Homo sapiens: one gene and its partner. The protein of the gene in region 1 interacts with the protein of each later gene in a pairwise test. Each region holds a gene or a part of one and is shown on either strand. Other genes may lie near its edges.

Region 1 (7,598 bases):
AATACATGTCTGGTTTATTAGCTTTCTTTTTGGAATCAGAGTCCTGCTCTGCTGCCCAGGCTAGAGTACAGTGGCACGATGATAGCTCACCGCAGCATCGAACTCCTGAGTTCTAGGGTCCTCCTATCTCAGCCTCTAGAGTAGCTGGGCCCTCGGCCTACAGGTGTTCACCACCATGCCTGGCTAATTTTTTTAATTATTATTTTTTGCAGAGGCAGGGTCTCACTATGTTGCATAGGCATCCTTCCACCTCATCTTCCCAAAGTGCTGGGATTACAGGTGTGAGCCACCATGCTAAACCCAAAATACAGATATTTTATAAGGAATCTTGAAATTGTATTTCTAAAAGAAAGAATGGCGCATAGGTCCTTCAGATTTACACCGTTGCTCAGAACGTAAACTGAAAGACCCCAGCTATGCTCTAGGAAAATGATTTTCCATCTTGGACCCTATCACTGCCAAGTTGAAGACACATTTTCTGGGTATTTATAACCGGTAGAGTGAGATGCGGAGGTTCCTTGAGGGGGCTCTACCCACCCAGTGTCTGAGTGAGCTTGCCTAGGACTAAGGACAGCTGTGGTGTGAGCTGTCACCCACAGGAGACATCTGGATGGCAGCACAGCTGAGGCACTCTGAGAGCAAATTGAGACCAAATTCCCGGAGGAAGTCCCCTTCCCCTGCTCTGCCCACAGGTGGGGGCTGGGCCCAGACACGTAGTTCTCTGGGTAAACTGCCTTAGGGGAGAACAATCGTAACAACGACACACGTGTGTGCACTCGCGCAAAGGGCAAGGGAGACAGCTCTAGACAGAGGCCCTGAGTTCCACTGCGATGGGGGAAAGAGAGAGACAGAGACACACAAAGAGAAAGACAGAGGTGGGAGTACCCGCAGAGAGCTAGCAGGAGCGAGAAGAGAGGCTGACCTCAGGAAAAACATGGAGAGAGAGAGACTCAGAGAGAAAAGCAGCGAAAAGAGAAACAGAGACGCGGTGAGAGACGAAAACAGCCGCCGGCACAGGCGCGGACGCACGGAGAGGGCGAGGGGGACCCACGGACGGAGGCGGCAGACGGGAGCCCGGAGGAAGGGCGGGAGGCTTGCGTGGAAACGAGAACGCACGGACGAACGCGCAAAACCCCTCAAGCCTTTGGCCGCCCTTCCCCGGGCCCGGCCGGGCCTTCAGCGGTTTCCCTGCAGCCTCCACGCGCCCAGGACCCGGCTCCCGGCCCCCGCGGTCCCGCTGAGAGCCGAGGCCTCCTTTCCTCCTCCTGCGGCTCCGGCGACGCCACCTGATGCCTCCGCCGCCCGCCCGTCCGCCCCGCGCGGTCCCCTGGGCTCGCCTCGGAGGCGGCGCCGGGGACCCCGGGCTCTGTCTCTGGGCCCTCCCCGGCGCGCCCCCGCCGGCTCCCGAGGCCGGAGACCTTGAAGAGCGCGGCGTCCTCCTCGCGGTTGTAGTCCTGCTTGCCCGCGTGCTTCCAGGGGATGCGGAAGATGCTCTTCTCCTCGTTCTCCCACACCAGCCCGGGGTACTTGCCGCTGTCGATCTGGTCGATCAGCCACTGGCGGAGCTTCCCGTTGCCGCAGCTCACCGCGCTCATGCCGAACTCTCCGCCTCGGCCGCCGCCCTCCAGGTTCATGCCCCGCGTGCCGTCCGCGCCCGCGCCCGGGGTCCTCCGCCCGCTCTGCTCTGCACTGCGGGGAGAAGAGCTGCCCTTCAGCCACGAGGCACCGCACTCCGGGCACCCCGCCCCGATCCCCTGCGCCAGTGACCACGAGGCCCCGGAGTCTTTGAGGCTGCGAAGCGCGCGCGTGCCGTGTCAGGGTCGTCCGGGCCCCCGGAAGAAGGCACCTTCGCGGCCGGCCCGGGCGCATCCCCTGGGCGGGCACAGCCGTCCGCCTTCCGAGCTCGGCCCCCGCGAAGGCTCCTACCCGCCTGCTCTCCTGTAACGCACCCGCAGCCCAAAGGCTCCCGACACGCGCCGCTCGTCTTGCACCCTCTCTCCCCACCCAGCCGCCACCCCTCCTGGCCCTCCTTCCGCACTCACTCGCAGCTCTCGCTTGCCTTCGCTCACTCCCAACCCGCTTCTCGCCCCTTCCCCGCGACTCTGTCAGTTTCCACTCCCCTGGCGGCCTCCACGCGCGGAGGACCTCGCCTGCGGCCGGGCGTTCCAGGGGCGCAGCCCCGGGTTCCTCCACCCTCCGCTTTCTCTGCTCGCATCCAGACCCTTCGCCCCGAATAGGACCCCTATCCCTGCCCAGCTAGCGCGCACTAAGTGGGCTCTGCAAACGACAAGTGGCGCAGACGCGGGGGCTGCAGCCCCAGTACGGGGGATTCCGCGCGCAGAGCGTCCGCCGGACCCCGGAGCAGGCCCGGGAGAGCGGAGGCGGGGAGGGCGCGGGAGAGGGCGACGACAGCTGCGGAGCCTGGGAGGCAGGGACCGCGCCAGGCCGGCTAGGCCACCGCACGCAAGGCTCGGAGCGACCCAAATGTGGAGCTCCTCCTCCTCCTGCGCCAGCGGGTGAGCACCGCGCCGGAGGCCGCCGTGAGCTTGGGCCCCTTAGGAACGAAGAGCAGGGGAAGGAGCCTCGGATTGGGGTCCACAGGGCCGGGCCTGTTTCTCGCAGGCAGTTGTGCCGTCTTGTGTGGGTGCCTTGGACGGCCCCGCCTCAGCCACTCCTGGGGCCCCGACAGTCCGGTTAGCTCATCCCGTCCAGCTTGTGGCGACCCCGTCGCAGGAGCGCGGAGGGCAGGCGGGGAGGCTCGGGCAGAGCCAAGGAGGCGGGCCTTGGAGCCCAAACCAGCGCCTCCGGCTCAGCGCAGATGGGGTGGGAGTCGGAGCTCCAGGACGGGGCGCGCTCCCTTCCCGCTCCGAAGCCGGGGTACCCTGCGCTGCCCTGGAGGTCGAACCTCTGGTTCGCGCTCCGGGTCCTCTCTGGTATCAGCCTCACACCCCTCCTCCTGCCCGACTCCAGCCCTTACCTCGCCCTGGACTCGGAGCTGAGGGCAGCGGTGGGTCCCAAGATCGAGCGGTGAAACTGAGAGTGCGAGGTGGGAAAGAGGAACTTTATAGAACTCTCTGGGGCGGGGCCTGGGGCGGGGCGGGGCGCCGAGGCCTGTGGGGGCCGGGGGTTGGACTGGGGAGAGGGACTTTGCAAGCCGAGAGCCGGGGCCGGCCGGGCGGGCGAGCCTCAGGGCCGGCGTGAAGGCTGGGGGCTGCCGCGGCCGGGGTGGGGTTCCCGCGCCCTTGGCGACCCTCCGCGCGCCGCGCCCGGAGAGCGCACCTCCAGCCGGGCGCGCGCCGCTTCGGGGACTGTCACTGGGGCCGTTTCCCGCGAAGGGCGAGGTGCGAAATGCGAATCTCGCCTTTGCGCCAGGACCTCAGGAGGCCAGTCAATCACTAAACTGCAGCGATGTGGCCAGGGCGGGAAATGGGGGGCGTGTAGTAGCGGGAATCTGGTGCGAAGGGGACTTCGCTTTGCAGAGCGTGTAACGGAAGACGGAGGAATGGTCCAAAGAGAACTGGAGGTGGAGGTTGCGGGAGCACCCTCGGCAAGGCCATCACCGGGAACCCTGCCTCTCCGCGGTGTTTAGAGAACATCGCACTCACTAAAAAGAAAATAGGAAATGGCCCAGCTCCCTTGAGCTATTAAGCTTGATTCAAATACTGTCTCTGCGTGTCTGACATGCTTACATCCTTTTGCATCTATTAGGCTGGTGAATTGAAGTGACTCAGACAATGCCCCGGCCCCGAAGTTTTAATTATCTTAGCATGAAAGAGATGGGGGCGGGGAGAGGCTCCCTAAGGATCCAAGTGCTTAATCACTTCCAGACTTCAGTTCACCTTAAAATGATGTCGTTTTAACCTCAACCTGGAGGAAAGCAGTTTACCAGTGGGGTATAAAAGCCCAAAATAGGCCAGGCGCTGTGGCTCAAGCCTGTAATCCCAGCACTTTGGGAGGCCGAGGCGGTGGATCGCCTGAGGTCAGGAGTTCGAGACCAGCCTGGCCAACACGGTGAAACCCCATCTCTACTAAAAATACAAAAATTAGCCGGGCGTGGCCCCAGCTACTTGAGAGGACGAGCCACGAGAATCGCTTGAACCCGGGAGGCTGAAGTTGCAGTGAGCCGAGGTGGGCGACAGAGCAAGACTCCATCTCAAAATAAATAAATAAAAGCCCAAAATAGGAATAATACTTAAGTGGACCAGGGATTTTACATACTTTTCCAAGATGTCCTTAATCGCAAAATTAACCCCCTGAGCTTTCACCCGTTGAGCTTTCGATCGTCTGAGATGCTGAGTATGTGCATTTACTTCGCATTTTCAGGTAAACCATCAGATCTCTGGTTTCTATATGATTTTAGACCACCACCACCGTAGGTCAACCTGCAACTTTTGAAAAGCTTTTGATTTCACTTATTTCTCAGTTTTTGTTTTAATCTTATATATTGGGTCAATGTCTCCTAACCAAAGAAGAATCTATGTTTAGGCTAGAGCAAAACAGGTAGTGAGGTATGGATAGGTATGCTTTTCCTAAAACCAACAGACGTTCTCAGAAATTAACAGGATGCCATTTTTTATTTCACCCAAGTAAGTTTTCCATTACCAAAGTCTATGTAATAAACAACAGGGTTTTGTTCACAAAAAGTTCTGGTCACAACCTGTTTTTCTTCCTTTCCTTTCACAGATTTATTCACTTGACAAATGTATTTTGAGCACCTGCTACTTGTCAGGAACCGTCCTAGGCACTTGGAACACATCAGTGAACAAAGCAAAGATCGTTGCCTTCTTGTTGCATTATATTTTAATCAGTGTTACCTTTCCCTCAAACGTTCACAAACATACCAGAGAGGAGTTTGCTGAGGACAAAAAATGGCAAATGAGAGCTTTTTGCACTTTCGTATACGTGTCCTCTGCACCGGGTTTAGTCATTTTCAACATACCCTCCCCTCACTCATCCACATCCTCTGCTTTTAGTTCAGAACAACAGTCGTTGTGTGAAACTCTGAGCCTTCACACCACTACCTTGTTTTTAAATGTAATTGCTAATCTTCAACGCCATCTTCTGGTTTACTCATTTGCCATATTGATCCACTAGAAGTTATTTTTCTTAATGATGATGTGAATACAAGTAATAAAACATTTTAATCACTAAAACTCCGGATGGCCTCATTACCCGTCAGGGAGGCAGTGAACAGGTAGCAGCTGGCAGTGGTGACCAAGGACTTTTATATCTTAGTCACGATTGAAACAAAAAACGGCAAAGGTTCTCAAATTGAAAAGCTTCCCCACCAAACTCCCACCCCCTCCACACACTGAGACTTGAGAAAATCGGTATTCCTTAGTAAAAGGCTGGATATTTATCAGTAAATGACACAACTTGTTGACAAGCAGAAACTAATAGGAAACCAGTTCATTGAATGTGTACCCAAAACAAAGGCTGACCGTGATATTCCACGAGGAAGTTACTTATTTAGTGAATTATCCGTATGTTGAGGTTGTAGTCGGCACACCATCTGAATGGAGCATTTCCATTTTCAATTTCACATTTATCGTAAAGAGTCTGCAAGAAAAGCTGAATTTACCTCAATTCAGTATTTTAAAAGCCAATCTTTAAAATTATACATTCACATGCAAGTAAAATATTTCAGAAAAACCCATCCTACACACACAAACACACACACTAGATTCTTAAAATCTTGGATAACACTATTTTCCCACTAATTCACTCTTTAAAGGGGGGGGCTACAATTGGCTAAAAACAATGCAACTGTATCCATAAAGAAATATAAAGGGCAATCATTTTTAATTACCAGAAAAAATCAGGAAAATACTGAAAGTGCTATTTTCATGTAATTTATATAGAATATATGTCTCTTCTAATCCTCTTTGGTTATATGTGTTTGCAAATCTAATTACTGGCCATGACACATTGCATGGCCAAAAGGTAGTATCATTGGGGATTAAATAAGTGCTTGAGTTTTTAAGGCTGTGAGGCCTTGGGAGAGCCATTTAACCAAAGTCCTACTTCTGGGTGTACAAGGAGGGTGGGGGTGTCCCTGCCTCCCAGCAGTGTTTGTTGTGATGATGAAATGATGCTTTGCGCAATGCCTGGCACATCATCATGTTCAACAAATCAGGGCTATTATCATTTACTACGCACTTCAATACTTAGGGGTATCTCACGGACTTTCACTCATTTGGCCCCCAAACCAAACCTGGCAGGCAAGGAAGGCGGGATTCAGCCCAAGTGTAGGGAGAACGAAAGAGATTGTGAGAGGTCCAGATGGCTGGCCCAAGGACACAGCTCTGAGGAACTATTTTTTCTCCTTGTACACAGGGATTGGCTGCATTTGGCATGACTATTTCAGAATCAGCCTCTGAGTGCAGGCTGTCATAGGAGGGGGAGTTTCATCTCTGGTCAGGTCAGTGTGGGTAAGAAAGTCTTCCCTGGCCTCATCCTCCGCCCCTGTGAAGTGGAGGCCGGCGGCAAGTGACCACTGAATCCTCGTTTAACCCTAAGTAGGTGTTTTTTTCTTTCTGTTGCAACTTAGGATCATTAATGGCTGCCTCGTGGCCTTTTTGGTTATGGTAAATTCAGAGTAAGGAAAGCTGCATTTTATTTTTAAGCCATGGATCTAACCATTGACCTTCACTTTATTCTTCTTCACAAGGCTAAATTCTCTTTGAGGAAATGAGAGAAACCTGGTGCTGCCTCTTAGCCACTCTTCTCGAATGTTTAATCCTCTGGAAAAAAAAAATCTAACCTTCTAAGCTACTTATACCAGAGAGGAGTTGGGATGGAACACTCTGGAAATGAGATTATATTATAAATGCTCTCACTGCACACTCAGTTTAAAATAATTGAATGTTATTTGAAAAGTGATAAATTCTTTGGTAATAGAATACAGAGCATAAACCTGGATTTTTTCAAGTAGAGCTGTACACATTTTCCTAATTTAATTAGCAGAATGCCCTGAGTGCCTTCAATGAGAAAATTTGCAGAGCTTCGACAGTAAGCATTCCCAGGGCACAGGGCGTTCAGGACCAGCTTGTGATCTCTTTGAGGGCAGAGTTAGTAAGCGGGGCTTTTTCCTACATGCAGAGAAGAACCCGCTTTCAGGCTTGTAGGAAATGAGACTTGTGATTGTAATCGATGACGTAATGAGAAGCCAAGGATACGAGGTGATGTCTCCTTTCCCTGTTTATAAACAGCTCTTCCCTTTTCGCCTGCTCTTCTTGCCAGCATTCTAAGAAGAGTCCTGGCAACACTTCCCACCTCTCTGACGTGTCATGCTCTCTACAGAAACAGTGACGTGGCTTTACACAGGGCCAGTTGACACTGCCAACTCCTTAACCAAGCCAATGAAAACGCAAATGGTTTGCAATACCTTTGGGCAATTTTCTGAAAACTGAAGCAAGAGGTGAAAGGCAAACGGCTTTGTCTAATTCCACCCATTTGTAACAGCGCCTAATGTTGGGTTATTCTAAAGTTCATCAACGGCTCTTTCAGCGAAATTTTGTGAAACAGCATACCGTCACTTGTCACACATAAGACTCTAGGCATGCTGGATAGAGGAGTGTATCTTTCTAGAAAGGTTA
Region 2 (7,000 bases), on another chromosome or scaffold:
TACCTAAATCAATATCTCGAATTCCCATGTACAACTCAAGAACATCATCAATCTTTTCAATTGCCTTTGCTTTGGTTTCAGAAGGCTTTATCAAAAAAGAGAGAAATAAGATATTATACAACAAAATCTCTTGATTGTCAGGGCATACACAAGAGAAAGCCTGATGTGGAGCCGGTTCATAATTGTGTATTTCAGCTAATTTTAATGGAAATAGATCTAGAATGTGCTCTGTAACTAAATACAAATCAATACAGTAAATACTTATTTCTAGTGTCAGCACTAAGTGTTACGGATTCAAAAAAGAAAAGCCAGGAACACAATCCCCAAGTAGCTAACAATCTAGAAGAGGAAACAGATGTGAAAATAAATAACATGTAACAGTTTTTAAAGGATATAAAAGGCACAGAAGCATCACAGGGGAGGAAGCAAATTTATATCTCTAACAGTCATGGAAGACTTTAGAAAGAAGGTGACTTGGCTGAGCACAGTGGCTCACACCTGTAATCCCAGCACTTTGGAAGGCCACGGTGGGAGAGTTGCTTCAGCCTAGGAGTTCAAGACCAGCCCAGGCAACATGGTGAGACTCCATCTCTACAAAAAAAATTAATTAATTAATTAAAATAATTAGCTGGGTGTGGTAGCACATGCTTGTAATCCCAGACACTTGGGAGGCTGAAACAGGAGGATCACTTGAACCTGAGAGGTCTAGACAAGCCTGGGCAACATGGCAAGATTCTATCTCTACTAATTAATTAATTTAATTTAAAAGTAACCAGGTGTGGTGGTATGCACCTTTAGTCCCAGCCACTCAGGAGGCTAAAGTGGGAAGATCACTTGAGCCCAGGATGACGAGGCTGTAGTGAGCCATAATTCTGCCACTGCCCTCCAACCCGGCAACAGGACAAGACCCTGTCTCAGAGAAAAAGAAGGATGTCTTAAGAACTGTGGCGGGGTTTTTTTGTCTTGCTTTGTTTTGTTTTGTTTTGTTTGAGACAGAGTCTCATTCTGTTGCCCAGGCTGAAGTGCAGTGGTGTGATCTCAGCTCACTGCAACCTCTGCCTCCCAAGTAGCTGGGATTACAGGCGTGCGCCACCATGCCCAGCTAATTTTTTGTATTTTTTTAGTAGAGACGGGGTTTCACCATGTTGGCCAGGCTGGTCTCCAATTCCTGGACTCAAGTGATCCGCCCACCTCAGCCTCCTAAAGTGCTGGAATTACAGGCATGAGCCATCACGCCCAGCCAAGAACTGTGTTTTCAATGATGAAGAGGAGATAAGCAGGAGAGGACACTTCAAGTAGGATGCAATAGATAGGCAAAGTCTAAGTAAGGTCACAGAGTCATGTTAGAGGGATGCCAGAAGTCCCATGTAGCTGGAGAACACAGTGACAAATATGACTAGATCTTGAGGAGTCCTGTGTACCATGAAAAGGACTTTGGTCTTTATGGTGCAGGCCAGGGTCTCCAAACGTTTGATGGCTCATCCCAATAGTAAAACTTTTCTGAACAAATACCCTTATTGTGTATTTTTAACTTTATTGTATGTATTGCTTATCAATTACACATGTATTACCATATTAATATATTGTATAGATTATAAAAATACACCAAAAAAGGAAATTTTATAAGAATGAGATGATAAAATAATACTTTTTAAATCATTTTTGTGTTATGTATTAATGGTACCAAAACATTTTTGTTCTTCCCGAAATGATTACTAAACATTTCAGTAAAAATATTATTTTAAATTTTTGGTTTAATATTTGGTAAATTCTGCTCAGTTTATTTCAATACTTGGCTTTAAATGGCATCATAGCTGAAAATGGAATTGCCCAAAGATGTTAACTACTCAACTATACATGCAAATGTAGAATTCATTATTTAGATTATAAGAATTTCATGTTACTTTCAATACTGTTATAAATATATGTTGTTTTGTAGTCTCAAATTTTATTAAAATCATGCATTTTATAGCAAATAAAAATCTATTTCCTTGAAGATATTAATACAACTTTCTCACATTTTTATTTACAAGAACTAAACCTTAAAAACAATAACAGACAATATATTGCTCTTGCCTTCATTACAATGTATCTTGAATTGTCTGTATAAAGCAACAGGCTATGCAAATTAACAGGTATTAACCTTTATATCTATCCAGGCACGTTTTAAGTTACGGTGACAAGTGTCAGTACTCCTCATACCCAAATGGCCACCAATATTTTACCATTCTAATATTTCCTATTTGCTACGGAACAGATCTGGATCTATCACCTCTTCTCCATCCACATTCTGTTTGCCAGTGTTTAGTCCTCATCTTTTCTGATTTGCAGAGGTTTCCTATTTTGTCTCCCTGCCTTTGGTCTTCACCCTCTCAAATCCAAGCTGCTCAACAACCCATACCCTGGAACCAAGGGATTTTTCTAAAACACAAAACTGATTGTGTTACTCCCCTCATAATTCTTAAATGGCTCCCTCATTATCCACAAGGCCCTTCATATCCTAACCCCAGCCTATGCCTCTAGCCTCATCACCCCTACCTAACCAGTACTTCCAGCACCCCACACTCCAATCTCATGAACAGCTTACAGGTCCCCAAAACCCATTATTGTTCCATGCCTAGAACACTCTTCTTCCCCATTTTGAACTCACTCACTAATTTCTTCCGGAGAGAAACACTTCCTGACCCTTTTTTTTTTTTTTTTTTTGAGATGGAGTCTCACTCTGTCACCCAGGCTGGAGTGCAATGGCATAATCTCGGCTCGCTGCAACCTCCGCCTCCTGGGCTCAAGTGATTCTCCTGCCTCAGCCTCCCAAGTAGCTGGGATTACAGGTGCCCAGCACCATGCCCAGCTAATTTTTATGTTTTTAGTAGAGATGGGGTTTCATCACATTGGCCAGGCTAGTCTCGAACTCCTGACCTCAGGTAACCCACCCACATCAGTCTTCCAAAGTTCTGGGATTACAGGCGTGAGCTACTGCACCCAGCCTTCTGACCTCCTTTCTTTCCCCAATCCCTGTCAATGGCTGATCAGCCCCTTCTTTGTGACACTGTGTATCCTGCACCTGCTTCCATTAACCCTATCCCACTGGGTTGTAATAGCTTCTTTTCATGCTTCTCTCCTTTTAGAAGAGAAACAGGGTTTTTATTCTTCTTTGTATCACCAGCACTTAGACTGTGCCTGTCTCAGCAAGCACATATTGAATAAAGTATGAGGTTATGCAAGTGGAGAATTGATATGGTTTGGCTCTGTGTGCCCACCCAAATCCCATCTTGAATTGCAATCCCCACGTGTCAAGGGAGGGACCTGGTGGGAGGTGATTGCATCATGAGGTGGTTTCCCCCAGGCTGTTCTCGTGATAGTGAGGGAGTTCTCACAAGATCTCATGGTTTCAAAAGCGACAGTTTCTCCTGCACACTCACTCTCTCCTGCCACCATGTAAGACGTGCCTTGCTTCCCCTTCACCTTCTGCCATGACTGTAAGTTTCTTGAGGTCTCCCAGCCATGCGGAAATGTGAGTCAATTAAACCTCTTTACTTTATAAATTACCCAGTCTCAGGTATTCTTTACAGCAGTGTGAAAACGGACTAATACAGAGAATCTTACACCATTTTCAGAATTTGTGCTAGGTGATTAAAGGAGTGATTTGTTTTAAATCCCATAAGTCCTTTAAATTCTTAAAGTGTTTGAAATTAGATTTTATGTCATTTGTATCAAATTTAATATTAGCACCAAACAGCTTTTTCCTTTCATTATGAGCTATTTTTAATTGCCCTATTTTACTAAACAGACTATGAAAATAGGAATAGATTTTTAGATGTTTATCTTTGAATGAATCTTTCCTACCTCCCCAGGTAGATCTTAAGCTGCTCCTTTTCCATTCAGGCACCTTTGCCACAGCAGGTGCTTAACAAAGAGTGACGAATGATTTAACCCTTAGAAGATGCTCCTCCTCCTGAAGGGACGTGGCATTTTTCCTGCTGACCTGCTTCCTTTGTGAGCTGTTTAAAGGTCTGCTCATTTTTCCTCACAGCCTCCAGCAAAAGGCAGAGCTGACATTCTCCTGGCTCCTCACAGCCAGCAACTTCCCTCTGTTCTTCCCTTCTCTGATAAATTCCTTTCTTCCACTGAGATTTGCTTATTCATTCAATAAACACTTACTGGCCTTCAGCAATATACCAGGCAGTGTGCTGGGCCACAGAGGGAAAATAAAGGCTCCAAATGCCCAGAAGTCACTGCCCTGGGTTTCCTTCACATACCTCATCATATCTCCTTTTCAAAACACTTTTTGCTCTATCAGATCTCTTCGTTGCCATTTGCCTCTGATCGGTCCTTTCATTCTCCCAGAACCCACGCATTTGACTCAGGATCTTCCTCTAGATCCCCCCAAAACTGACAACACCGTGGGTGCCTCGACATTCCTAAGGACAGCCTTGGCCTCATGTGTTCCTTAAGTGTCTACTTCAACAAACCACCCCCATGACCAACCCTGGACCTTGTCACCCAACAAGTTCTGAGATCCCACTCTGTGAAACAGCCTCAAAACTGTTCATCTGTCTGTTTTTCCCTTCAAACACATAGGAACCCAGACAGCATTCACATACAGAGAGACCCTAGAAGGGCCCAGAGCCTTGCCCCTGCCCCCCCGAGCTCACAGGCATCAGTCACCTGCTCGACATCCCATCTGCCCACGGGAGGGCTTTGACCCCCATGCCTTTGCTGCTGTTGTGGGCCTGCTGCTTGCCACTTGGAATCCTTACCATCGCCACCCCAAACTTGCAGTTTTCTTCCTCCACCCTTCTTGCCTCTAGTTGTCACTTCTCCTTCTGGTGTTTTTCACTCAAACACTGACCTATATATAGACAAAGTCATTCAAAGGGAAAAATCCTTGCTTTTCTCAAACTAAAAGGAATCGTTTACTAATTCATTAATGCACCAAAGATTTCCATTCCTTTGGTATATCAGGTCCTATTCTAGGTGCTGGGGATGCAGCAGTGAACAAGACATGTGAGCAAAGGAGCTAGACAGTAGACAAAATTAATCAAAGATATAGAGTCCTAGTGTGTTTAGTGCTGATATGGTTTGGCTGTGTCCCCACCCAAATCTCATCTTGAATTGTAGCTCCCATAATCCCCACATGTTGTGGGAGGGACCCGGTGGGAGGTAACTGAATCATGGCGGCAGGTTTTTCCCATGCCGTTGTTCTCATGATAGTGAATAAGTCTCACAAGATCTGACGGTTTTATAAAGAGCAGTTCCCCTGTACATGCTTTCTTGCCTACTGCCATGTAAGACGTGCCTTTGCTCCTCATTCACCTTCCACCATGATTGTGAGGCCTCCCCAGACATGTGGAACTGTGAGTCCGTTAAACCTCTTTTTCTTTATAAATTACCCAGTCTCAAGTATGTCTTTATTAGCAGTGTGAAAACAGACTAATACAATTGCTTTGACAAAAATTAAGGACATGGAAGAGTGGGCAGTGGGAGGGGTGGAGGGAGTTGCTGTTTATACAGGATGCTCGGGAAAGGCCTTTGAGATAGATAATGTGTGGGCAGAAACCTAATGATGGCAAGGGAGCAAGCTATGCAGATAAATGGGCAAAACATTCAGGCAGAGACAACAGCAGTACTGAGAGCCTGAGATGGGGATACACCTGGAGTGTTTGGGAACAGCAAGGAGATCAGCATGACTGAAGCAGAGGAAGCCACGGCAAAGGGATGGGAAATGAGAACAGAGAAGAAATACGGAGTTCGGTCATGTTGGTCATTCTGAGGACTTTAGGTTTTATTCTGAGTGTCATGGGAAGCCACTGGAGGGTTGTGAACAGAAAAGTGACATAATTTCTCTTGCATATTTTAAGGATCATTCTGAGGGTTGTGCTGAGCACAGGTGGAAAGAAGGCAAGGGTGAACACAGGTGGACTAAACAGAAGGTGATTGCAAAATCCAGGATAAGATGATGGTGCCTTGGGGCACAGTGGTGGGCAGGGGTGGTAAGAAGTCATTGGACTCCAGTATCTTATAGAGGTAGATCCACTAGGATCTGCTGATGGAAGCGACATGGGACATGAACGAAAAGAGTCAAAGATGACTACAGGTGTTTTATGTGAGAAGAGGAGTTTACGAATATAATCTTTCATTATCAATATCTTCTTTTGTTTACTCCTACAGGTGGCTCTGAAACATTTTCTTGGTTCTCAGAGAGCTTTGGTTGACTTAAGTTTTTGAGAGAGTCCAGCTGTCTATAGAGTCTAGAAACGTCACCTACAGGTAACTGAGAATTTCTATAGATCACAATCTCTTCTCATGTCCTTAATTTCTATATTTCCTTTTTAAATACCTTCAGTAATTTCCAGATTGTTTAAATAGACAGTGAATTAAAAGTCCAAGTTTTGGTTAGAATGAATGGAATTTTATCTAACTCAACATTTCCAAGCAGAACAGGAAGTAAATGAACATAACATACCATTTCTTCCACGGTGGCAGGACCTTTTGATCTCAGGCGAAGTGTTGCCCTTCCACAACCAATTTTTTCTCCTGATGACTTTCCAGCCTTTGACCTCAGCTCTATTTCTACAATACAATGAACAGGGAAACATACATATACACAGAAAGCATCCCAACAGATTACTGTGAAGGCTAATGTAGTTTCTATCACAAAACTATATACAATTGTTATAGAAATTTGATAAAACGTAGGCCTTCTTATAGAATTTCCCGAAGCAAAATAAATGTACTTGTCATCCATTATTCTTATAAGAGAGTCTTTATGAGAGAGTTCTAACTCCAAGAAAAGGGAATATGTGAAATGTACAGATGGGAAAGACAAAGTTACAAGGAAGAAAAAACAGTAGGCTCTACAAAAAGAGTAAAGAGGAGTAAGTGGTTTCATCAAAGTCACAAAAAAAGGGAAAGAATCATGTCTTGAAAGAAGAGAGGTTTCTTCTCCCAATGGACCAATAGAAAAAGAAGAAACAAAAAAAAAATTTAAAGGAAAAAA

What was found. The genes of interacting proteins can lie anywhere in the genome.
Region 2: the proteins of IRF4 (region 1) and GIPC2 interact in binary tests that used the Homo sapiens proteins (3 or more experiments, as listed by UniProt).

Annotation. Positions count from the first base shown.
Region 1 is NC_000006.12:387,189-394,786, reverse strand, and holds the start of IRF4 (interferon regulatory factor 4), read right to left. Parts: upstream 3,036-7,598; 5' UTR 2,978-3,035; intron 1,690-2,977; 5' UTR 1,635-1,689; coding exon 1,419-1,634; intron 1-1,418. UniProt on the Homo sapiens protein: Transcriptional activator. Binds to the interferon-stimulated response element (ISRE) of the MHC class I promoter. Binds the immunoglobulin lambda light chain enhancer, together with PU.1.
Region 2 is NC_000001.11:78,118,966-78,125,965, reverse strand, and holds part of GIPC2 (PDZ domain-containing protein GIPC2), read right to left. Parts: intron 6,574-7,000; coding exon 6,467-6,573; intron 86-6,466; coding exon 4-85; intron 1-3.